Regions from separate parts of the Homo sapiens genome. Here all the other regions are linked to region 1. Evidence: fine-mapped expression QTL. A gene starts in region 1. Each other region holds a variant in brackets. All regions are shown on one strand. Distances are between the middles of the regions. Region 1 holds the start of KATNB1 (katanin regulatory subunit B1). Region 2 holds the start of LOC388282 (a long non-coding RNA gene). Region 3 holds the start of MIR6772 (microRNA 6772).

Region 1 (8,154 bases):
TAGAACTTTCATAGCAGCATTATTGATAATAGCACCATACTTGGAAGTTACCCAAATGCCCATCAAGAGCAGAATGGATACATAAATTGTGGTCTTCAGATATTTTGGGTTGTCTTTAACTGCTTAGGGAGAACTGCTTAGGGAGAATGCTACTGGCATCTAGTGCATACAGGCCAGGGATGCTGCTAAACATTCTACAATGCCCAGAACAGCCCCCCACAGCAAATAATTATCTAGGTCTAAATGCCAATAATGTTGAGGTTATAGAGTATATTAGTCTGTTTTCACACTGCTGATTAAGACATACTCAAGACTGGGTAATTTGTAAAGAAAAAGAGGTTTAATGGACTCACAGTTCCACACGGCTGGGGAGGCCCCACAATCATGGCAGAAGGCCAAAGGCACATCTTACATGGTGGCAGACAAGAAAGAATGAGAACCAAGCAAAAAGGAAAATCCCTTATAAAATCATCAGCTCTCGTGAGACTAATTCACTACCATGAGAACAGTATGTGGGAAACCCCTCCCATGATTCAGTTATCTCCCACTGGGTCCCTCCCACAATATGTGGGAATTATGGGAGCTACAATTCACAAGATGAGATTTGGGTGGGGATACAGCCAAACCATATCATAGAGCAATGAAAATGAATGAACTGCAACACAACTATATGGAATGATATGGTCAAACTGCCTAAGTATAATGTCAAAAGATTCAAGACACAAAAGTACATACTCTATTATTCCATTTATGGAAAGAACAAAAATAAGGAAAATTAATTGGTGATATTAGAAGTCAGGACAACCGTCACTCTTGGAGTGTGAGGGTTAGTGAATGGATGTGAGCATGGAGCCCTGGGAGGGGAGGTTCTGGTTTCTAGTCACGTTCTGCTTTTTGACCTGGGTGTGTTCGGTTTGTAAAAATTCATCAACCTTGTGCACTTACAATGTGTCCTCTGGAGTGTTTTTGACTGCTTGTTGTCATGAATCTAATCAAGCCTTTAGCCCTAACTTAAGAAATTCAAGGGAAGAAATGCATTTAAGAAGAACGTCCATCTAACAAGAACTTCAGGAAATTCAGGTAAATGATACTAAAAGGAAACATTCCTAACGTGGGACAATCTAGGTAAATGGCCTGATCTCTTCAAAAGATCGATGTCATAAAAATAAAAGTTTGGGGACAGAAATGGAAAGAACTTAAGAGTCAAGTGTGGTGAATACTGATTGGTTCTTAGTTAGAAAAAAAAAGTCCTAAAAGGTTTTTGGGATGACTGGGGACATACGAATATGGACTGGTTGTTACAGAATTAAATTTTCTTAGCAGTGGTGATAACAATGGTTATTGTAGAATAAGGGCTTTATTTTTATTTTTTGAAATGGATCTCACTCTGTCGCCCAGGCTGGAGTACAGTGGCCCCATCCCAGCTCACCGCAACCTCTGCTTCCCAGTTTCAAGTGATTCTCCTGCCTCAGCCTCCCCAGTAGCTAGGATTATAGGCACGTGCGCCACCACGCCCGGCTAATTTTTGTATTTTTTTGTAGAGACGGGGTTTCACCATGTTGGCCAGGTTGGTCTCGGACTCCTGACCTCAGGTGATCCGCCCGCCTTGGCCTCCCAAAGTGCTGGGATTGCAGGCGTGAGCCACCGCGCCTGGCCAAGGGCCTTATTTTTAAGAGATACATGCTCAGTATTTGGTGTTGGGGTGAAATGTCATATCTACAATTTTCAAATGGTTCCGAAAAGACACACAGACGAAGCAAATATGGCAAACTGTTAACAAGTACTGGAATCTACGTGGTATCATTATATTGTCTTTTAAAGTTTTCTCTGTTTAGTTTTCTTTTTATAATACAAAATTAAGGGGAACTGCAGGCTAGACAGTTTTGATCCGATGTTATTCTGCTAATCTTTTAAAGGTGTCTTGCGGTGACTCACGCCTGTAATCCCAGCACTTCGGGAGGCTGGGGCGGGTGGATCACCTAAGGTCAGGAGTTCAAGACCAGCCTGGCCAAAATGGAGAAACCCCGTCTCTACTAAAAATATAAAAACTAGCCTTAGCCCGTCGTGGTGGCGGGCGCCTGTGGTTCCAGCTACCCAGGAGGCTGAAGCAGGAGAATCTGAAGCAGAAGGCTGAAGCAGAAGGCAGAGTGGGGACTCCCCCACGCTTTGGCTTTCAGAACAAGGGTTCGAATTCTGGGGCTATTACTTTCTGACCGTGTGGTTTTCTGCAAGCATCTTAACCCGGGCCTCAGTTTCCTCATCTGTAAATGGGAACAGGAATTCCTACCTCTTATGGTTGTACTGGGCGTTATGTGAGCCCAAGGAGCCCTGACCTGCGGTGAGAGGCTGGAGGCCGAAGGGCAAGGTTCGAGGGGCTCTGGGTGCCTGGGACAACCTCTGGGCAACAGGGAGAGGCGGCTGCGGGGCCAAGTCCCTCCTAAGCGGCCACGCGAGAGGCCCTGAGTCGAGAAGGGTTACGGCGCTTCCCAGAGCCCACCCCGCCCAACGTGTCACAAATAAAGCTGGCCTTTCTCCGATTCCCTGATTGCAGCCATTCAGGGAGCAGCCCCTTGCCCACGCATCCATTAGTCGAGGCGGTGGCTGCGTGTGCAGTGCTACAGGGTTCAGCGCCTGCCTCGGCTCCGGAATCAGGCTGTTTCCTTCTAGACCTCCCATGGGGGATTCAAGCCGGCGTCCGGGTCAAAGAACAGGGACAAAGTCCTCCTGCCACGGGGGACCATCTGCAGGCAAAGTGAAGAATGAGGAGCTTCGGCAAAATGCCGACTAAGGCCTCCTTAGGTTTTGCCCCACTCCAAGATGGAAGGCCTGAGGCTTCACACTGCCCCCGAAGTTCCTTTCCCATTGGCTATCTGGGAATTGAGTTTTCCAATAATGCGGACGCTGATTGGTCAATCCAGGACGGTTGCTCAAGCCATTGGCGCAGCCGCCATTGGAGGGCGGCTCTCAAAAGTTTTCAGACACAAATTAGGTTCGAGGGAGGAAACGGAGAGGAAAGGGAAAACTTGAGACGGAGGCGGGACTAAGGAAACGGCAGCTTGCATTGGTTTATTAGAGGCCAAGGGGCGGCTCTTGAACGTTCCTTCCTCTTGATTAGTCCTATTTAGGAAAAGAGGGCGGGTACTGAGGAAAAGCGGCAGAAGCGCCTGCTTCCATTGGTCAGTCCTGGCAGGAGGCGGAGCACCCGCGGCAGCTGATTGGTGCGGGAGGCAAGGTGGGCGGGGCTCTGAGCCGGAGGTTTTGTTGTGAGGGTCGGTTGTCAAGCAGCGGCCAATCAAGGCAGGGGATGGAGGCAAGTGGGGGTCGCGCCTGGAGCGGAGCCTCGGCCTCCGGAGCCGCAGCTGCAGGTGGAGTGGGCAAGGGGACGAGGTGGCGAGGGGACGGTGGGCCCTGGGCTGGGCCGAGCCAGGCGGGGCTGGCTGGGCTTGCGGGCAGAGAGCTCTGAGCGTGGGGAGGCTAGAGCCCGTACTCCGCAAGCAGAGGGTTGGGAGGATCAGCCGTGGCCGAGGGACCTGCCCCCGCCCCCGGACGAGAGGGGTCGGGGTGGAGGCCGGAGGGGGCAAAACCAGGGAGGCCGGAAGCAGAGCTGGGGGTCTGCAGAAGGACAGGTAATGAATAGGGAGAAGAGAAGTAGGAGAATGAATGAATGGGAGACCCCGCGAGCATATGGGAAAGGGCAGTAACGGGAGTCTGGCGAGGCAGGGGCCACGTGAGGGATATCGGGAGACAGGATGTGCATAAGTGGGAGACTCAGGGGGCAGGGAGAAAAGGGGGTGTGAACGGAGGACTAGAGAGGCAGACCCGGGGACCCAGGAGAAAGGGGACGGAGGGGAGCGGGCTCATGGGAAAGAGGTGAAGTGGCTGTGGGAAGGAGGTGGGAGGCTCCATGAGGAGGCCTTTTAGAGTTGAAGAGTCATAGCCACTTACGCCCAGACTGGAGGCCTAGTTCCTAGCTCTGTCCTTGGGAATCGCAGGGAGCAGGAGCGGTTCCCTTGCCAGGAGCTGGGGAATTGGACCATCAGGGTCGTCTTCGAGATTCTTTCCAAGGAGGACTTCAGTGGCCGTCTCTGGGATGCCTTTCCTAGGCCCCTAAGCTTAGCTTCTGACTCCGCTCTCCCACATCCCACACGTCAGACAAAAACAACGACTCGCAGGAAATCTATGTGAATTGCAGACACGTGGTCTTCTCCGCCCCACTGCGGCTGCTGCACTTTAGGCAGCCAGCATCCCGGAACAGAGCTGCAGCTCATTATCCTGGCCTCTGGGAGGAGTTTCTTTTTCCTTACGTTCCAAATCACCCTACCTGAGGTGCCCCCTCTGCAGATTCCCAAACCTAATTTGCAGTGCAGCTTCTGACTCTGGTGGCTTTGGTGGGTGTCAGTCTTTATCAAGTGGTCTTGGTGATCCAGGGAGCAACAGCTCTTACCAAGCATTTTCTAACATGACGTCACCTCTTGTTTGTATTGCAGCCCTGTATTGAGCTGAGATGGCTCGAGCCTAACATTCCATGATCCAGGATCGTGACAGATGTGCACAGGCTGCTGCTGTTGCTGCTGTGGGTAATTTGGAACCACGAGGCACCCCAGGGCCAGAAGACGAGGCATTCTGTCTGCCTGGATGTGTGGGAACTCTCTGCCAACTTGATTGGTGGATCTGGGGGGGGATCCACCCCCACCCCACGAGGAAAGCACAGTTTATTTTGTGGGTGGGGCTTCAGGTGCCAGCCAGCTGAAGGATGGCCACCCCTGTGGTCACCAAGACAGCCTGGAAGTTGCGTGAGTGGTTTTCATTTTTCTTTATCACCCCATTTATTCTGTTAGCGGCTTGTTGCTGGGAGGCCTGAACCCACAGCTTTGTTTCCTGTTCTTGGCACAGGAGGAGACTCCTAGACTTGGGAGTAAGATAGACCATTATGTAAATCATGACTGTGGCACTTCTTAGCTGGGTGACACTGGGCAGGTGACTTAACCTCTCTGAGGCTCAGTTTTCTTATATGTACAATGAGATGACGCCTGCATTCTATGGTTGCTGTGAAATTCAAGTGACAGGATGAACCCATCCTAAAGCACTTAGCACAGCATTTCCAGTTAGGCTGACAGTGGGGTGAGAAATCCTGAAAGATGTTCACAGCATTCTCAGACATCTCACAAGTCAAACTTCCCCAGTCAGATAAAAGCATCTTGGGCCTGGGATGGGGGAAGGAGTGGGAGCGAGGAGGGGCGGGCAGAGGGATGCAGACAGGGCTCGGATTGTAACTGATGGGCACTGTCCACTCCCACCATTGCCCTATACAAGTGGATCTGGACTCTTTCATCTGAAGACTTCATACTTTAAGAATTATTGAGGACCCCAGAGTGCTTTTGTTTGTTGGAGTTATATATCTGTCAGTATTTACCACGTTAGAAGTTAATACTGAGACATTTTCAAACAAGAGTATATAATCAAATAGGCCTCTAGTGATGTTCTGGGAAACTCCACCATATGCTTGAGAGCAAATGAGAGTGCAAAAGGCAGATGCCATCTTAGTGTTATTGTGAAAATCCTTTTGTCTTCTCAGACCCCCCGAAAGGATCTTGAGGATCCCAAGCATCCCCAGATCATATTTTGAGAATTCCCCTACACATTGGCACCTTGGTGGGCCCTGCCCCACCTATTGTAACTGGTTGGCATAGCTTTTGTGTGCTCCACCTGGTCACTGTCTGCTGCCAGCTGTCCCTGGGCTGGTTTTCAGGAGCTGGGACAAGACTCCACACTTTTTTTTTTTTTTGAGACAGAGTCTCACTGTCACCCAGGCTGGAGTACAGTGGTGCAATCTCAGCTCACTGCAACCTCTGCTTCCCGGGTTCATGCGATTCTCGTGCCTCAGCCTCCCGAGTAGCTGGGATCACAGGCACCCGCCACCACACCCGGCTAATTTTTGTATTTTTAGTAGAGACGGGGTTTCACCATGTTGGCCAGACTCGTCTCGAACCCCTGACCTCAGGTGATCCACGTGCCTCAGCCTCCCAAAGTGCTGGGATGACAGGCATGAGCCACCATGCCTGGCCAAGACTCCACACTTTTTAACCATGAATTTAACCATAAGACTCTGGGCAAAGCTCTTTGCAGGGCCTCTGTTTCCTTGTTTGTAAAGTGAGAGGTTTGGGCCATTTTCATGTTGTTCCCCAAAACTCTAGGGCTCTGGGAGAACCCTGTTATGGTTCCCCAAGGAAGGCACACTTTGGTCAGAGTGGCTTTGTAATTATTGGGATTACGTATTCATCCCTTCGACAGCTGGCCTTTCCCCAGAGCTAGGCACTGGGGAGCCACTGGGGGACAAAGTAGTCAAGGTCTCTGTACAGCGGGAGCTCAGAGCCTGGGGAGAGCAACAGGCAGGAACTGGATAACCGTATCCCTCTGTGTCTCCTCTAGTTGCAAGCTGGTGCCTGTGCTTTGAATCAGTTAGCTGGGGGGTAGGGGTAGGGGTGGGGTGGGAATGCTGCAGGCTGCATGAACAGCAAGTGCAAAGGCCCTGAGGCAGGAGGCTCAGTGTATTGGAAGGACTCAAGGGAGGCCATGGGCAGTGGCACAGCAGCAGGAGGAATGTGGGGCCGCACGGACCTACTGAGTTCTCAGGACCCCAGCCCTCCTGAGGCTGCCGTGCTTTATCATAAAGGCAAGGCCAAGCCATCAGTGTGTGCGAGCAGGAGGTAATGAGATCAGGCGTATTGGGCATCTGCTGCTGCTGCTGATTTCATGTGCACGGTGGTGTCCGTGGGAATCAACTCTGAAGAGCCCAGGGCCACGTGACCTCTGGCTCCTTGTGGCTCCAGGGTCTGGTGAGGATCAGAGGTGCGTGGCCCACATGAGGTCGTTGAAACCTAGTACTTTGTATCTTGCATTTGGGATGCTGATCCTCAGCCCCTCTGGCCACGCCGCACCATGTTCCCCAGCTTTGGCTGGATGTGGGGCCCAGGTTGTACTCCCAGAGCTTGGCCTGCCAGTAGACACTGAGGATTTTTATTTTTTATTTTTGGTATGAAAATCAAGTATTCGGCCTGGGCTGTTGGTTGCTGTCCAACAAGCCAGGATGAAGGAGGAGCTCTTGGGGTGGTGCCCCGTGCCTCCTTTGCAGGTGCCTGTGCTGTGTCCCTGCCCCTCTGCCCTCCCTCTGTGGGCTCCAGTCAGTCCCTGGTCAGGCTGCTTAGAGGGGAGTGATGTGGGCTCCTCCAGAAGGGCCCAACTTCTAAATCTTTCTCACTCCAAAGTCTGCGGTTTTGCCAGCTCAGTGTCCCGCCCCCACCACCATCTGATTATACTGGGGCATATTTCGTGCAAGGCCTAGAACAGGCACCCAGGAAATACTGATATTATGAATGAATGCCCCTGACTCCAGGGGCAGCAGTCCTGAGGCCCAGTGAGGTGGGGCCCAGCCAGACACTTTCCCTGGGAGGAGTGAGGGCCAGGGGACAGACAGAGCCCTCCAGGTAGGCCAGGGGGAGCGAGCAGTGCCTCCACGGAGAGGACACCAGGCTCGGGCACGGAATGCCAGGGAGAAGGTGCTTTGCCCTCTTTCTGGGTCAGGTGGAAACCTTGAACAGACACGTCTGTGGCTGGAATTCCTCAGGTTTCTGTCCCGACAGTGTCCAGAGGACAGAAGGCTCTCATCGAGACGGGACTAAAGTGGGGCCCAGCTCCCTGGGATCCCCATGGCGAACTCCCAGCGCCCTGGCCCAGGTTTGGGCCCACAGGGAACCCTCGCCCTTGCTGGCGCTGCTGCCTGTGCTGGCTCTGCCCCGACCGGCCCAGGAGGCAGGGTGTCATCAGTGAGATTCAGCCTGCGACTTGTCCCCTGGGTATTCCTGGTGGCCCCTTGGAGCCCAGGTTTCTGGCAAGCAGCTTCCCTGGGCCCAGTTTCCCAACCTCCTTGTGGTCTGAAGCCCGCAGCAGAGACACCCAGGCAGGGTGGAGTCGGAGCTGGGGTGCAGGAGGGGCCTCTGTGGAGCGCCGTGGCTCCAACACCCTTTTCCTTGGCGTCACCCACGCTGGCCTTCCGGGTGCCTCGGGGCGTCAGCACCTTGGGGTTTTCCCCTGGCCTGTGTGGGGAGAACTGTCTTTTTTCTCCCTTCTTTCCAGGAGGAGCTCATGCAGGGATGG
Region 2 (8,156 bases), 76 kb after region 1:
CCCATTGAGTTATGGTGAGATGTAAATTGGAGCAAGCACATAGCACCCTCAGCCCAGCATCTGGCACACAATTGGCATTTCTGCAAACACAAGCTGCAGTTATAGTGGGAGGCAAAGACCGGATAGAATTTTTTACTCTGCCTTTTCTTACTTTGAATCATGTAAGTGCTGGGTGTGGTGGCTCATGCCTGTAGTCCCAGCTTCTTGGAAGGCAGAGGTGGGAGGATCGCTTAAGCCCAGGAGTTGGTCAGCCTGGCCAACATAGCAAGACTCCCATCTCTAAATTTTTTTTAATTATTATAATAAGCATTTTCCATGTCACTTTTTCCTGCTAATGCCTACATTTTTCTGAAGTGCAGACATCATAGGATAAAGCCAAGGTCACATTCAGAATGGAGGTTCCAGTGTCTGGGGCGCACCTAGCACTCAATAAAAATGGCTGAAAAGTATTTCATTTATTCACTTATTTAGAGTTGGGGTCTCGCTCTCTCACCCAGGCTGGAGTGAGGTGGCATGATCAGAGCTCACTGCAGCCTTAAACTCCTGAGTTGAAGCAGTCCTCCCACCTCAGCCTCCCGTGTACTGGAACTACAGCTGTGAGCCACTGCACCCAGCAAAAAACTATTTTAAATGGCTGCATAATATTCCACTGAGAGCCTGTGCCCTGACTGAGCTGGCCATTCCGTAGGGTCTGATATTTGAGTAGCTCCCATTTTTGTCACTTTTATAAACAGCATTGCTGTCACCATTGCCACCCACACAGCCCGTTCATTCCCTGGTGTGGGGAGGGAAGGGAGAAGAGAGGTTGTCAATTTCATAAAAAATCTTTCTGAATAAAGAGTCTGAGCATTTTTTTTTCACTTTCTAAACATGTTGCCAGATTGCCCCTCAGAAGGCCTGTACCAAATTTACACTGTCGTTGGCAGCATTTTTTGACGAGAACTACTTTTCACGCTAATTTACAGTTTTTCTCTTGGATCTGGAATTCTCGCCCTGGCTGGTTCTCCTGGGAGGCATGAGGCATATATAAAGATATCTGAGCGATGGCTGTCACCAGAGGGGCGTATCTGGTTCTTCTGCCAGGTGCTCAGGCCGGGAGTGTTTCTGTCTGCTGGGCCAGGCCAGGTGGGGCTGAGAGCACTGACTCAGTGCTCCCAATCCCTGCCTGCTGTTAAGCCCTCAGAGATCTTCTGAGGTCAGTCCTGGAACGCCTCAGTACCCCGCGGTCCAACACTCTGGCCCATCCTAGACGGATGAGTCTCATCTGGTGCCACCACCATGATTCCTGCTCTCACACCCTGGCACTTCACTGGGGCTCCTTGCAGTAAGTCAATCAGCTACTACTGGGGGAAAAAAAAATTCCTCCTGGGTGGGGAGATGGGGACAGGGGCCATAAGGGAAGCCACGTGCTCCTGGAAAGCCATAGCCACAGCCCCTGACCACCTGCTGAACTCTTAGCACCACTGCTGCTGCTGCCTTTAAACTGTAGCTTCGCTTTGCTGAGGTTCTGTGGTGCGCAGCCTCTCCCCTAGCTCTGGTCCTCCTCCTCTGGGGGTGGCCCTTGTTTGCAAACAGCAACAGGAAGTTTTGACGCTGCTGATTAACTAGACTCCCACAGCTCTCAGTGCTGAGTCATCGCCACCAGTGTCAACCTCCCGCCCGCCCCGCTGACACCACCAGCTTCCAGGTGACCGAGAGGAAGCAGCAAGGATCCTGCGGTTCCAGTGGCTTCCATCTGCCACCTTCCAAGGGAGGGGAGGGACAAACTTCCATCCACCCCAGACAACCAGAATGTGCAGGGCCCTGAATGCCAGGACGGGAATTTAATCTAATTCAACTTCAGCAATGGGCTGAGGGACAGCTTCATGCCAGGCAAAGGGAAAAACTCTTTACACACAGGATTGCCTTTGCTTTCATTCAATCCCCGCAACAACATGTGTGGTAGGTGTTATTATTCCCATTGTACAGATGGAGAGACTGAGGCCAGTGGAAGGCCTATGGATGTGTAGGGGCTGCTGTGGGAAGATAGCTTGGAGTGCCAGAGATGGTGGGTACCGCCAGCAGGAGCTGTGTCCCCAACCCACGATGTGACCTTGGTCAGACTTCCTCCCTGTTCTGGGTCTCATGCCCCTCCCTGGGTAAAGGAGGAGGGTGGACTGGTGACCTTCTCAGGGCTACAGCCACAAGGAAGTGAGTGGGCCAGCTGGAAGGGATGGTCCTCATTCTGGGACTCTGCTTGCTGAAAGCCTGATCCAAGGGCAGGAGCATCCCACCTCAGTACCTGGGGTTGGCTTCACTGTTCACAGTTGCTTCTCCAAGGAACTCCACTGAAAGAAAGTAGTTGAGTGGTTGCCAGGGCCTGGGAGGGAGAATGATGAGTGACTATGAATGGGGCTTCTTTGGGGCGTGATAAAATGTCCTAAAGTTAGTTTATGGTGACAGTGTACAACTCTGTAAATATACTAAAAACTATTGGATTGTACACTTTAAACAGGGAATGTTATGGTATGATAATTATATCTCAGTAAAGCCGTTTAAGAGAGAAAGGAAGAAGGAAGGAGGGAGGACAGGAGAGAGAGAGACCTACACAGAGGTCAGGCCAAGCGCGATGGCTCACGCCTATAATCTCAGCAGTTTGGGAGGCAGAGCAGGGAGGATCACTTGAGGCCAGGAGTTTGAGACCAGCCTGGGCAACGTGGCAAGACCCCATTTCTACAAAAACATTTAAAAATTAGCTGGGTATGGAGTGCATACCTATGGTCCCAGCTACTTAGAAGGCCTGAGGCGTGGGGCCAAGCGGAGTGGCTCACACCTGTAATCCTAGCACTTTGGGAGGCTGAGGCAGGTGGATCATTTGAGGTCAGGAGTTCGAGACCAGCCTGGCCCACATGGTGAAACCCTGTCTCTACTAAAAATACAAAAATTAGCCGGGCATGGTGGCATAAGCTTGTAAACCCAGCTACTTGGGAGGCTGAGGCGGAGAATCACTTGAACCTGGGAGGCAGAGGTTGCAGTGAGCCGAGATTGTGATTGTGCCACTGCACTCTAGCCTAGGTGACAGCAAGACTCCGTCTCAAAAAAAAAAAAAAAAAAGAAGATTGAGGCCAGAGAATCACTTGAGCCCAGGAGTTCAAGGCTGCAGTGAGCTATGATCAGACCACTGCACTACAGCCTAGGTGACAGAGCGAGACCCCGTCTCTCTCTTTTTTTTTTTTTTTGAGACGGAGTCTCGCTGTCACCCAGGCTGGAGTGCAGTGGCGCGATCTCGGCTCACTGGAGGCTCCATCCCCTAGGGTTCACGCCATTCTCCTGCCTCAGCCTACCGAGTAGCTGGGACTACAGGCGCCCGCCACCTCGCCCGGCTAATTTTTTGTATTTTTAGTAGAGATGGGGTTTCGCCGTGTTAGCCAGGATGGTCTCGATCTCCTGACCTCATGATCTGCCCGCCTCAGCCTCCCA[A/G]AGTGCTGGGATTACAGGCATGAGCCACTGCGCCCAGCCCCCCATCTCTTAAAAAAAAAAAAAAAGAGGTCAGGCCAGAGCTGCCTTTGGGATTTGCCTTCTGGGAATAGGGCCCTCAGCACCCAGCCCCTCTGCAATCATCCCCCTCTAAGCAGCCTCACTCCAGAGTCCAGGAAAGGTGTGTGTGAAGACACCCAGTGGCAGGCGGTGGCCCCAGCTGCTGACCGAGTGTGATGGGGCCCTGGCCTTTGGTGCTTGCCTTCCTCAGAGCGGAAAGAGCCATGAATCAAAGGGCAGGTGTGTGTGGACCTGAAGGAATGTGGGGAGGGTGGCAAGAAAACGGCTGGAGGTGGAGCGGGAGAGACCCCATGAGTCAGGGTGAGATGAGGTGTTGCTCAGACAGGGAGGGCCTGGAAACAAAGCCTGGACTGGAAACACCGAAACACCGGGCTGGCCAGGGCGCTCTCAGTTGCCTGGAAACATCTTAACACTCCAGAAAGTGTGAGTAAGGAATACCTGCTGCCCCTGAGGGGCTCCCCCGAACTGGTCCAGCCATGTCTGCTTGGCAGTTGTGGGGCACAGGCAGATGCAGCTGCCCAAGAGGCAACCCCAGACTAGACCTAACGCTGAGCCAGGTGCACAGGTGCAAGGGATCCATCACGAGGGCTAAACTGGCCAATAAGAGGCAGGAGCTCATTCCACTTGTACTGTTTAGGCAACTTGCTGTTGAAAAAGGAGAACCTGGCCAGGCACAGTGGCTCATACCTTTAATCCCAACACTTTGGGAGACTGAAGCTAGTGGATCACCTGAGGTCAAGAGTTCGAGACCAGCCTGCTCAACATGGCGAAACTCCATCTCTACTGAAAATACAAAAATTAGTTGGGCGTAGTGGTGCACGCCTGTGATCCCAGCTACTTGGGAGGCTGAGGCAGGCGAATCACTTGAACTCGGGATGCGGAGGTTGCAGTGAGCCGAGATTGCGCCACTGCACTCCAGCCTGGGCAACAAAGCAAGGCCTTGTCTCAAAATAAAATAAAATAAAATACAAAAATAAATAAATAAATAAATAAATAAAAGGAAAAGGAGAAGCCAGAGGATCTTGGAGGCACAGTGTCCCTGTCTAAATCTCCAGATAACCCAGAAAGCACGCACTGCCCCCACGCTACTCCACCCCCTCCACGCCTCCCTGTCCTATGCTCTTCATGCCCACCTCCTGGGGCAAATGGCACCGGATGCCCCTGTCTTAAGTGAACAAATGGAGACTCTAACCACCTTCTGAGAATCCCAGCCCTGGGGTCAAACCTGCATGCCTGCCGAGTGCCTGCATGACAATAATTAGGATTTCCTATGCTCTGAAGCAAACCTCCCACCTGGCATCCTGCGTGTGTCCAGCACCTCCCTGCACCCGGGCACCACTCATGCAGGTGGGCTTGGCATCCTCACAGCCTCTGCAGCACGTGCCTTCAGAGGGAAGAGAACCGGGGACTCGGGAGACTCAAGGCATCTCCAGAGTCACAGCCTGAAGACAGAACCCCATGCTCTCCTGGACATAAAAGCCATGCGGTCCCTGGTAGACAGGTAGGCAGAGGTGAAGGGATCTACCCTGGCACCGGGTAGGGGCTGTGCAGTCACTCCTGCTTATTCTTCCTGTACATCCCGCTACTGTCCTCATGCTATAGATTTGACTGGGGCAGGCTGGCTGCAGAGTCCAAGTCTTGAACCACTGCACCACACTGCCTCTCAAGGGCACAGTCAATGGGGTACCTTGTCATTGTGGGTCATTCCTCAGCATGCATTCAGAGCTCTTCACCATCTGCCTGCAGCCGCCCTGCCCAGCCTTCTCTCCCACTGACCCCACAAGGCACCCTCTTTCTGGTCTTTGAATTTTTCATATGCTCCACCCACACCCCCATATCCCCACCTGCAGCCGTTTACCTGTGAGGCCCAATGGAAGCATCACCTCCTCCATGGGGACTCCTGATACCACCTAGTCAGAAGTTCCCCAGGACCACCTCCCCTTCCCTTAGCTCACCTAGCACTGGATTCACAACTGTGGGGGACTGTTAGTCTCCTACATTAGATTGGAGGTCCCTGATTCAGGCTCCCATGCTGTGTGACTTAGGGTAAGTCTCTGAGCCTCAGTTTCCTCATTAACAGGTAATATTTATTGAGCACGTACTATGTGCCAGGTACTATGTGCTAAGTACTCTACATGAACTCTCCCATTTAATCCTTACAGCACCTATGAGGCAGGCACTATAATTATCCCATGTTACAGATGAAGAAACTGTCACTGTCATTAGGACCACCATCATTATCATTACTATCATTCTTTTTTTTTTTGGAGACAAATGCTCTGTCACCCAGGCTGGAGTGCAGTGGTGCGATCTCAGCTCACTGCAACCTCTGCCTCCCAGGTTCAAGCAATTCTCGTGTCTCAGCGTCCCAAGTAGCTGGGACTACAGGCATGCACCAACACACCCAGTTGTTTGTATTTTAGTAGAGATGGTGTTTCACCATGTTGCCCAGGCTGATCTTGAACTCCTGAGCTCAAGCAATCCACGAACCTCGGCCTCCCAAAGTGCTAGGATTACAGGTGTGAGCCACCATGCCTGGCCTATTATTGCCATTCTTTTGTCCGCTATAAAACCTAGTGCACAGCAGACACTCAAACTCAGCAAAATTCAAATATGGCTGGAACTGAAACCAGCCTTAGGTAGGAAGGAATTTCAGAAACAGAGTTCTGCACATGCTCTAGGACACGCAGGCCTGGCCCTGTCCAGGCTGGGGTGATACCATCTTTGGAGGCTGATGCTGGCAGTCTGTTGTGGCTGGGAACTTGGGGTGACCTCCTTTTGCTTCTCACATCAGCCCTGTCTCTACCCACAGAAACAGACTCTGCCCAAACAAGTCCTGCAATGCACAGAGCCCGGTGGCAAACAAGCCACCTGGATAAATGGTGCCCAAGGCTGTGGGGGTCCTGGGAGGCTGACTGGAGGCAGAATTGTGCTCATTTGTAACCAGAGTAGCTCCGGGTTGCTTCTGTTAGCTCAAGGCCACAGGTACATCTCTGTGCTTAGAGATCCACACCGCACCCCACCACCGCCACGTGTTTTCTAGGATCCCCTCCAAGCATTTTCCAAAGCCCGAGGGGCTGCTTACAAGACTCTGCCCATCACCCCCAACCTGGCTGATCTGGGACCACATCAGCACCTGGCCTGACTCTTCTACCAGGATGCCCTCCAAGACCAACACTGATGCCTTAGTCACCCTCACCAGGGAGGCTGGGGGTGCCCCCACATGGCTGCTGCACCTGATGTTGGAAACGGAGGCTCCAAAAACGTAAGTGAAGTGGGTATTCCTGCTAAACACTCCACTCGGGGCCTGGGAGAAGGGGAGCAAATATCTGTCTACTCCCTCAACTCCACCCAGCCATGGCTTGTCCCACGGCCAAGTTGCCTGGGTCCTTGGGATCACCAACTTCTTCTGACTCTCTACACACACACCCCCAAACACCCCCAGACTCCTTTCCTGCCACTCCCCCACCTCAGGCACACATGCAGTGCTTGGTGCCTGGGTTAAGTCTGTGCCCTGTGGCGAGTGCTGCCCGGATACCCCGGGGTCCATTTGAGGATGAACTCGGCTGGGTCACCCCTGCTACAAACAGGCTTTTACATTCTTGAACTTCACCTGGGGTGAGGGTCTTCAGGAGTGCTGTCCCTTTTCCTCCTGAGGCCTCCTTGGTCCTGATGTTAGTGAGTGGCCATCCACGTACCCACAGGAAGGATGTGGTCAAATCCTCTTACCAGTGGCTCTGAACCATTTGACCTGCTACCTGAGCTGCTGGGGAGAGGAAAGGGGAGGGTGCTCCCACTTCTAATAGTTCATCAAGTTCTCACAACATCCCCATTCACAGGTGAGAAAACCGAGGCCCGGAAAGTGTCAACCCAAATCACGACACTCCTTGCCCCAAACCCAGAAGCCTGAGGAAGTAAGGAAGTGCGGTGGGATCTGTCTTCCCGTGTGTCTTCAGGATCCTGGGGCCTGCCCCTCCTGGCTTCCTCTTGAGGAAGGCCTCAGAAGACCCGCCTTTGGTCACAGGACAGAAGCTGGGCCAAGAGGCAAAGGTTTTGGCCGCCACAGGGGAAACTCTGGGCTCAGAGCTGCCGAAGTGACTCACGGGCCCTGCTGGGAAGCAGCTGACGTTCCTTGTCTGCGCCTTACAAAACCACACGGGCTGCGAGTGACAGCTGGCTGCTCTGAGTGGCGGAGGAATGTTGTTGCCAGACAGGTTCCTGAGGCATCTGCTGAGCTGTGCTCCAGAAACCAGCCCTGGGCAGCTGCCACACCAGGCAGCCTCCACCCCTCCCCACAACCAGGAGTCTTGGAGGGCACCCCCACCAACCTCAACAGAACTCTCCCCTCAGGGATCCGTGGAAGTCAGCCACTGCCACAGGGACAGCCACCCCTTCCAGGCAGGAGCTCATGGGAAACCAAGACCAGGGAACCCATCCCACCCCCAGTAAGACTTGAGGCCAGGGAGGTTGGAGGGGTCTCCCTGTGACCAAATCTGTGGCCATCACAACCGACCTTGAACCATAATACTAAGAATGATAACAATAATAATCACAGCTAACCCTTCACACTCACTACATGCCGGGCACCATGGCATGGAGCACTTTTTCTGAATTATCAC
Region 3 (8,174 bases), 38 kb after region 1:
CCTGAGACGCAGCAGGCCAGGGGAAGGAACTCTCGGGAACATCCCACTCAGAAACCAGAAAAAAACTAGAGGAGCCTTGAGGTCCTGGCTTTCCAGAAAGCTGGGGGGGTCTCCTGGAACCTTCTCAGCTTAACAAGAGGCTACTATGAGCCTGGCTGGGGCCCCATCCTGGGTACAGACAAGAAAGGCAAAAAGACGAGGGCAGAATCCAGGGGCTGCGCTGCATCTGTGCCTGGCACCTCAGCTGTTGGATACCTACTCGGTGCCTGGCCCTGGATACAGGAAGGGGAAGGGGCAGGACCAAGCACAGAACTGGAATGATTCTTCCACCCACACACACCTACCTATTCACCAGGACAAGCCCCCCTTATGGGCTAGCCCTGCCCCAGGTGCCAGGGGCCTTGGGCTGAGGCACAGATCAGGTGGGCCAGGGCTCACCTTGACAGGTGGGGACTGGGCCCGCAGGCTGGCAATGGTCTCGTGGCTGTCACGCAGGCGCCGACTAAGCCGCTCCTCCTCCTGTGCCTTCTCAGCCAGGCAGTCCTTGAGTCGCAGCTCCACCTCAGCCAGCCGGTCGGTCTTCTGCTGCACCTCTAGGTTCAGCTCTGACAGCATGCCTTTGCTTTCCGCCATCTCCAGCTGCAGCTGGGACAGCTTGTCACGGAGCTGGGCGCTCTCCTGCAGCCATTGGGAGGCACTGGATGAGTGCAAGGGACAGGCTCACTGTGAGGAGCTGGGGTGGCCCTCCAGGACCAGCATGGGGACCACGGCCATTCTGCTCACCTGGCTGTGCTCACAACCTGGGCAGGGACCTGCTGGCTTTGTGCGCAGCTCTTGCAGCTCGGCCTCACAGCGCCGCATCTCCTGCCTCAGTCGCTCATTCTCCACCATCAGCAGGTCCCGGTGCTTCTCCAAGTCGGTGCCCCCCTGCAGAGAGCCAGGGCCGAGGGGGCGCATGTGGCGAGGGCAGATGACGGGGGAAAGAAGAGAGGCCCGCGGAGATGGCACAAGGGCAGGGAAGAGAGGAGAGGTGTGGAGAAAGGCAGAGGGAAGGAGAAAAAGAAAAAGAAAAAGGCAAGGGCAAGAGAGGAGGGAACAAGCTCAAGAGAGAAACCAAGAGAAAGACAGTGGAGGGCAGAGTTGAGAAGGGTGGTGACCCAGAGCCTGCTCTCCCTGCTGCCCCCACCCTATTCTGAGTGTGAAAGTCACAAGGAGAGACATATTTATACCAGGGTTCACACTCCCGTTTAATGTCAGCAACAGAGAAGGAACCTCCCACCCCCTGGAGCCACAAGGCCTCTGAGGGTACTAGGAGGTGGGGATAAGGCTCTCGGTGTGTTTCTGAGACAGGGTGGGATATGCGGGCTCAGGAGAGAGAGGGTCGCACCCCTGCCCCTGGCAGGGCCCATCTGCACAAGGCAGGCCAGGCCCTGCGCTACCCCAGGACAGCCTTGTGGCCTCACCAGCTCAGATCGCAGTCGGCTCACTTCCTGGGCCTGGCTAATGAGCTTCTCCTTCAGGTGTTCTACCTGTGGGCACAGAGTCAGGAGCAAGGTGAGCCTCAGTCCTCAGCTCCAGCCTACACCCAGGCCTCCTGCCCAGCACCAGGGATGACTGATGTGGCTGTGGCTTCTTCTAAGGCTGTGGCCTTAGGTTCCCCTATGTTCAAGCATCCCATCACACCTGGGACTTCAGGTGAGAGAAACCTGGGCTGGTGCTGACAGCCTCCCGCACCCTCTCCCTCCACAGGACAGAGCCAACCCCAGCTCTTCAGGAAAGCCCAGAGGGCAAGTGCAACCAAGGCCACCCCGATGCCCCCTGGGCCCACCCAACGGCAGCCCACCCTCAGGACCCCTCACTACACGAGCCCCTCCCAAAGTCCTGTACCTGCCTGTGTCTATGTAATTTTATGTTCTCTCTCTTTAAAAGGGCCCCCAGATGGTACATACTCCAGGTCCTCCGAGCCCTAGATCCACCCTGGCCCAGCCCCCAGAATTTTCCACTTGGGGTGGTCTCTGGCAAGTCAGCCTGTGGAGATGGGTCTGCCAGTGGTCAGGGCACACTCAGAACCTGTGTCCACCCCTGCTCCCAATCTGCCTTGCAGGAAAGCTGTGGCAGCCAAGGCTCTTATAGGGGGAAGGGGGTGTGCACCCCATGAGGAAGCCACGGTTACCTAGCTTATCCGGACCCCAGAAGAGGGGACACCATCATGGTGCCAGTCCCATGAGGGCAGATCCCAGGGGAGCAACCCTTCCCCGGCGCTGTCCTCCAGCCACCCATCCCCTCCCAAGGCCCTAGACCCTGGTCTCACATCAGCCCACCCCCAGAAACCTCTCTCAGGAAACAATTCACAGACACAGACTTTGGCTCCAGCTTCCGTCAGGGCATGTTTAGTACTTTTCTTGCAGAACGTCCTGTGGTGAGCAACCCCCACCTCGGGAAAGGTGCGCTAAGAGCCAGATTCCTGTGTGGTGGTTTAGGAGGTTTACACAGCTGGGTTCTCATTACTAAATGATAGGCAACAACGTCCACTGATTACAGGGGACAGCCAGGTAAGGCAGGTGAGGGGCTGTGCAGGGCTTGGCTCCCAAGAACCCTTTAAGAAGGCGGCCACCACGTACTCTCCTCGGACGACAGGAGGTGAGAACGCACACCCAGCATCGCCAAAATTCTCATCTTTCAAGAGAGGCCTAGGCCAGCCTGAGCAACACAGCAAGACCCCATCTCTACAAAAAGTTTCAAAACTCAGCCGAGTGCACCAGTGCACGCTTATAATCCCAGCTGTAATCCGGGGGGTTAGGTGGGAGATCACCTGAGCCCAGGAGTTTGAAGCTGCAGTAAGCTATGATAGCATCACTGTACCCCAGGGTGACAGAGCGAGGCTGTCTAAAAAAAATAAAATAAAAATAGAGGCTTAGAGTCCGCCCCCTTAGCACTCAGCAGCATGCATCAGCCATAGTTAAGACAGGCCGGACATTTGGATTTTGGGGGTGTGTGTAAAATCTCCCTACTTTACATGGTTGAGATGTCATCAAACAAGTCTGTGTCATCAAACAAGGTAGTGTTCGGCCTCGGAGGTCCCTGTCTCCCAGGGTGGGAGAGAACGGCTGACTCACAGCAGCTAGGCCAGCTCTGAGTGGTCAGGGAGGAAGTGGACCAAGGGATCCACCCCCACCTCTGAGGAAAAGGCCAGGGAGCTGGCACTGCCTGCTCTTGGTGGGGCAGGGGGATTCCAAGATGCAAGACCCAGGTGAAAGGCTGGGGGCCCAGCCAGGCCTCCTGGGGGACAAGCAGGTGACCCAAGGGCCAGACCCCTGGAGGTCAGCTCTGCCGCCACCTGCACAAACACATTCCTTCCTAGCAACACGCTGGGCCACGGGCCAGGCAGGGAGGCAGAGCTTGTGCCACTTCTCTGCCCGCTCAGTGCCTGATGAGAGGACGGCTCAAGTCCTTTGGCCCCTGGGTGGGAGTAGGGACAGTTTGCATGAGGCAGCCTTTCTGCTTTCGTCCTAAAATTGAGAATACCCTGAATAAGCACCCTTAGAGGAGTGGGCAGGTGAATTACAATGTGTATATATAGTACATAGACTATTCTGTCATCATTACATTCATGTTTATCAGGAGTTTTAAATGTCATGGGGAAAGGCTCATCAACATATTAAGTCCAAGAAACATCTGAAAAACCATTAAGTGTACAGCACTAAAAAGTGGGGGTCTCTGGGCTGTGGAATTATAGTTGACAAAATCTTTATGCTTTTCAGTAATTTTTTTTTTTCTTTTTGAGACAGGGTCTCACTCTGTCACCCAGGCTGGAGTGCAGTGCCTCGATCTAGGCTCACTGCAGCCTAGACCTCCTGGACTCAAGCCATCCTCCCATCTCAGCCTCCCGAGTAGCTGGGACTACAAGCACATACCATCACGCCCGGCTAATTTTTTTTTTTTTTTTAATGTATAGAAGGGTCTTGCCATTTTGCCCAAGCTGGCCTTGAATTCCTGGCCTCAAGCAGTCTTCCCGCCTCAGCCTCCCAAAGTGCTGGGATTACCGTTGTGAGCCCCTGCGCCCGGCCAGTAATTTTTCAGTCTCAAAGAATACGTAATTCCTACTCTCCCTACCCTGACATAAGTGAACTGACTTCCTCTTCAAAAGGTTGAAGTCTCCTTCCACGCCCCCTCCCTCCCCAGAAAGGCTGCTGCCTCAGCATGGGGCTGGGCGCACTAACCTTGATCATCTCCACTGCCGCCCCTGCCAGGCACTCAGACCCTGATGCAGGGAGAGTGGGGTTTGCCAGTGTTTGCTGGGGGTGGGAGGCGGGATACCCACCAGCCACCTGCCTGCGGCCCAGGGTTCTGTTCTGTC[C/G]TTGCATCACAATGGGAACCTGGGGGCTCCTGGGCTCTGTCCAGAATCTCAGAGGGGCACCCAAAAGGAAGTGGCCGCAACCGCAACCAGGGCAGGCTGGGGAGCATGGGGGATGGTGAGGGAGTTGAGGAAGGGGCTCTAAAGGCCCCTTTGTTCAGAGGTGTCAGACACTAGGTCATCTCTGGCTTCTTGAGGGCAGCAAAGCAGGGGGAATGTGACTGAGACGCAGCAGACTGGCACCACGAGCACTCTGGCCAAGGCACCAGTGGCCTGCTCCGTGGCAGGTGGTTGGCCAGCTCTACTGGGGGCTAGGTCTCGGGCTTGTAGGGAAGATGTCTGCTTTCTCCTGCACTTGAAGGCAGGCAATCTCTCAGAGTTAGGGAAAACAGGCAAGAAGTCAGAGAGAAACGGAGGCACCTGGGGAAAGCGGATGGAAGATGGCCTGGGAGCAGTGAGAGCCAAGAGCAGGCAGGGCCTTCCTCAGGGAAGACTGAGGGCCCTTCACACACTCACCGCAGCTTCCAGCCAGCAAGGGCCGTCCATGTCTCTAAGCCCAACAGGGGAGGGTCCCGAGTGCCACCCTGGGCCCGATACATACTTGTGGCCACAAAGGGGCAGCAGGCACATGCCTGAGCCCAAGACACAGGACGGAGGAGAAAGCAGACTCCCCACTAGGCGGCTGAAACGGTCCCAGGACAGCATGGACGTCAATCCAGGGCTGAGGACGGACCAGGCTGGGGCTGTGCGACACTCCTCCCGGGCCCAGGCTCCTCATCAGCCAGAGCAACTGAATCACGGGCCTGCTGCAGGGGGCGTCACCCTGCCTGCTCAAGGGGAAGAGGGAGCTGGGCCTGTCTGCCGGCTTGACACCACCTGCATTTACACTTCACAGGCAGAAGCGGCTCGACCAAGGGTGGGGCCAGCCAGCCCAGGTCTTTGTGTTTTCTCAGCTGTCTGCTTCCAAGGCGGCCTCTTACCATCACAGAAAGAAAACCTGCTGGTTACCTCCTTACCTCCCACCAAGCCCAGTCAACGATCATCAGCTGTCTGCTGAGGAAAAGCGGGCTCTCCCAGGCTGAAGCTGCTGAGCTGGGAAGGCCAGAGGGTCTGGGATCCAGACAACCTCAAGGAAACTCAGCCCAGAGGCCAGCGGGGCGGCCCTGGGAGCACACCCTGTGGAGCCCACAGAAGGCCTGATCCTGGCTGTATGACCACCGGCCAGGCCTATCTGTCCCCTGTCCACGCCACCCTGCCTCTGTTGCCAAGTCTTCACCTCTGGGTCCTTCCGCCACTGATGGGCAGTAATAGCAGCTGACAATTCGAATTCTAAAGCCAGGCTGCCCAGGTTCTAATCCAGACATCCCCTTACCTGCTGGGTAACCTTGGACAAGTCTCTTAAGTTCTCTATGTCTCTTAGTTTCCTTATTTGTATAATGAGGCTACCTCATGGAAGCTGTCTCGAGGATTAAACGAGATGATATATGCGAAGGCAGGGATTTTTGTCTGTTGTGTTCAGCACTGTACTCCCAGTGCCTGGAACAGTGCCTGGTACACAGTAGGTGTTCAGTAAGTACCTGTAGGAAGAATGCTGAATGCATGAGGGGCCAGCCAGAGCAGAACTTGTGGATGAGGTTGGTAAGCAGAGACAGAAAGGGTGGTGGGGCTGGAGCGTGCTAAAGGATGGTCACCTCCACCAAAGGCAGGAGCTGCCACTAGACCTCAAGCGGTGGGTGCCATGTGGGAATGTCAGCTCAGAGGTGCCACATCTTCCAATATTTTATGACAAAAAGGAAGTCTAGAGTTTTATGTGAATTTAATTAAGATTTGAATGTTGGAATTAATTTGATTTTAAAAGCAGGGCAATTAGAACTAATAAATTCAGCAAAGTTGAAGGATACAAAATGAACACACAAAAATCGGTTACATTTCTACAACTAACAATAAACAATCCAAAAAGGAAATTAAGAAAATAATTCCATTTACAATAGCATCAAAAAGAATAAAGTACCGAGGAATAAACTTAACAAAGGTTAAATATTGTATGCTAAAAACTACAAGATATTGGTGAAAGAAATTAAAGATGACACCAATAAATGGAAAGACATTCCATGTTCATGGATTAGAAGATTTAATATTGATAAGGTGTCAGTACTACCCAAAGTGATCTACAGATTCAATGCAATGCCTAACAAAATCCCAATGACATTTTCTAAAGAAATAGAAAAATCCATATCAAGGGACACCACATAGCTAAAACAGTCTTGAAAGACTGAAGGTCTCACACTTCCTGATTTCAAAACTCACTAAAAAGCTACAGCAATTGGCCAGGCGCGGTGGCTCATGCCTGTAATCCCAGCACTTTGGGAGGCCGAGGCAGGCGGATCACCTGAGGTCAGAAGTTTGAGGCCACCCTGGCCAACGTGACGAAACCCCATCTCTACTAAAAATACAAAAATTAGCCGGGCCTCATGGCAGGCGCCTGTAATCCCAGCTACTCAGGAGGCTGAGGCAGGAGAATCGCTTGAACCCGAGAGGCAGAGGTCGCAGTGAGCTGAGATTGCACCACTGCACTCCCGCCTGGGCAGCAGAGCAAGACTCCATCTCAAATAAAAAAAAAATTAAAAAAAAAAAAGCTACAGCAATCAAAGCAGTGTGGTACTGACATTAAAACAGACATAAAGAGCAATGGAATGGAATACAGAGTCCAGAAATAAACCCTCGCATATATGGTTAAATGATTTTTGACAAGGTTGCCAAGATCATTTAATGTGGGAAAGGATAATCTTTTCAACAAATGGTGCTGAGAAAACTGGATATCCACAGGCAAAAGAATGGAGTTGGATCCTTACCTTATACCATATACAAAAATTAACTCAAAATAGATCAAAGAGGGCCAGGCGTGGTGTAATCCCAGCACTTTGGGAGGCCAAGGTAGGAGGAGTGCTCGAGCCCAGGAGTTCAAGACCAGCCTGGGCAACATAGGGAAACCCTGTCTCTACAACAAGTAACCAAAATTAGCTGGGCACAGTGGCACACGCCTGTGGTCCCAGCTACTAGGGAGGCTGAGGCGGGCAGATCACTTGAGCCCAGGAGGCCAAGGCCACAGTGAGCCATGACTATACCACCACACTGCAGCCTGGGCAATACAGCAAGATCTTGTGTCAAAACAAAAAACAAAAAACCCCAAAGACCTAAATGTGAGAGCTAAAACTATAAAACTCTCAGAAGAAAATAGAGGAGAAAATGTCATGACATTAAATTTGGCAATGACTTCTTGGATATAACACCAAAAGCACAGGCAATAAAAGAAAAAATAGGTAAGTCAGACTTTATCAAAATTAAAAACTTTTGTATAACAAAGGACACTATCAACAGAGTGAAAAGGCAACACGTGGAAAATACTCGCAAATCATTTATCTGATAAGGAGTTATTATCCTGGATATATAAAGAACTATAACTCAACAACAACAAACCCAATTTAAGAATGAGCAAAGAACTTGAATAGCAATTTCTCCAGAGAAGACATACAAATAACTAAAACACACATGAAAAGATATTTAATATCACTGGCATTAGGGAAATGCAAATCAAAACCACTATGAGATACCACTGCACACCTATTAGGATGGCTGTTACAAAAATGAAAATAAGCAGGAGCGAGTCCCAGCTACTCCAGGAGGCTGAGGCACAAAGATTGCCTGAGGCCAGGAGTTCAGAGGCTACAGTGAGCTATGACCATGAACGGCCACTGCACTCTAGTCTGGGCAACATAGCGAGACCTCATCTCTACAAATAAATAAAGAAAATGAAAAACAA

What was found.
Region 2: its variant is fine-mapped to the expression of KATNB1 in whole blood (INTERVAL, PIP 0.98).
Region 3: its variant is fine-mapped to the expression of KATNB1 in whole blood (TOPMed, PIP above 0.99).

The regions. Positions count from the first base shown.
Region 1 is chr16:57,732,491-57,740,644 of GRCh38, forward strand. KATNB1 (katanin regulatory subunit B1) reads left to right here and starts at 3,280. Exons shown (of 20, transcript NM_005886.3): 1 at 3,280-3,365; 2 at 4,488-4,793. The coding sequence starts at 4,754. It overlaps LOC107984852 (a long non-coding RNA gene), which reads right to left and starts at 4,154. Exons shown (of 2, transcript XR_001752221.3): 1 at 3,946-4,154; 2 at 1,339-3,117. RefSeq lists enhancers at 1,131-2,108, 2,738-2,847, 2,827-3,121, 2,868-3,037, 4,406-4,475 and a silencer at 3,348-3,587.
Region 2 is chr16:57,808,844-57,816,999 of GRCh38, forward strand. It overlaps LOC388282 (a long non-coding RNA gene), which reads left to right and starts at 1,676. Exons shown (of 4, transcript NR_169553.1): 1 at 1,676-1,941; 2 at 4,819-5,038; 3 at 6,581-6,802; 4 at 7,377-8,109. It also overlaps a transcript of KIFC3 not described here. RefSeq lists enhancers at 1,391-1,520, 1,711-1,770, 1,831-1,890, 7,868-8,156. The variant A/G (reference allele first, on the strand shown) is at 3,460.
Region 3 is chr16:57,770,760-57,778,933 of GRCh38, forward strand. It overlaps KIFC3 (kinesin family member C3), which reads right to left. Exons shown (of 20, transcript NM_001130100.2): 4 at 1,464-1,529; 5 at 784-927; 6 at 439-678. It overlaps MIR6772 (microRNA 6772), which reads right to left and starts at 1,593; the gene lies at 1,530-1,593. RefSeq lists enhancers at 3,883-4,461, 5,012-5,071, 5,040-5,618. The variant C/G (reference allele first, on the strand shown) is at 4,358.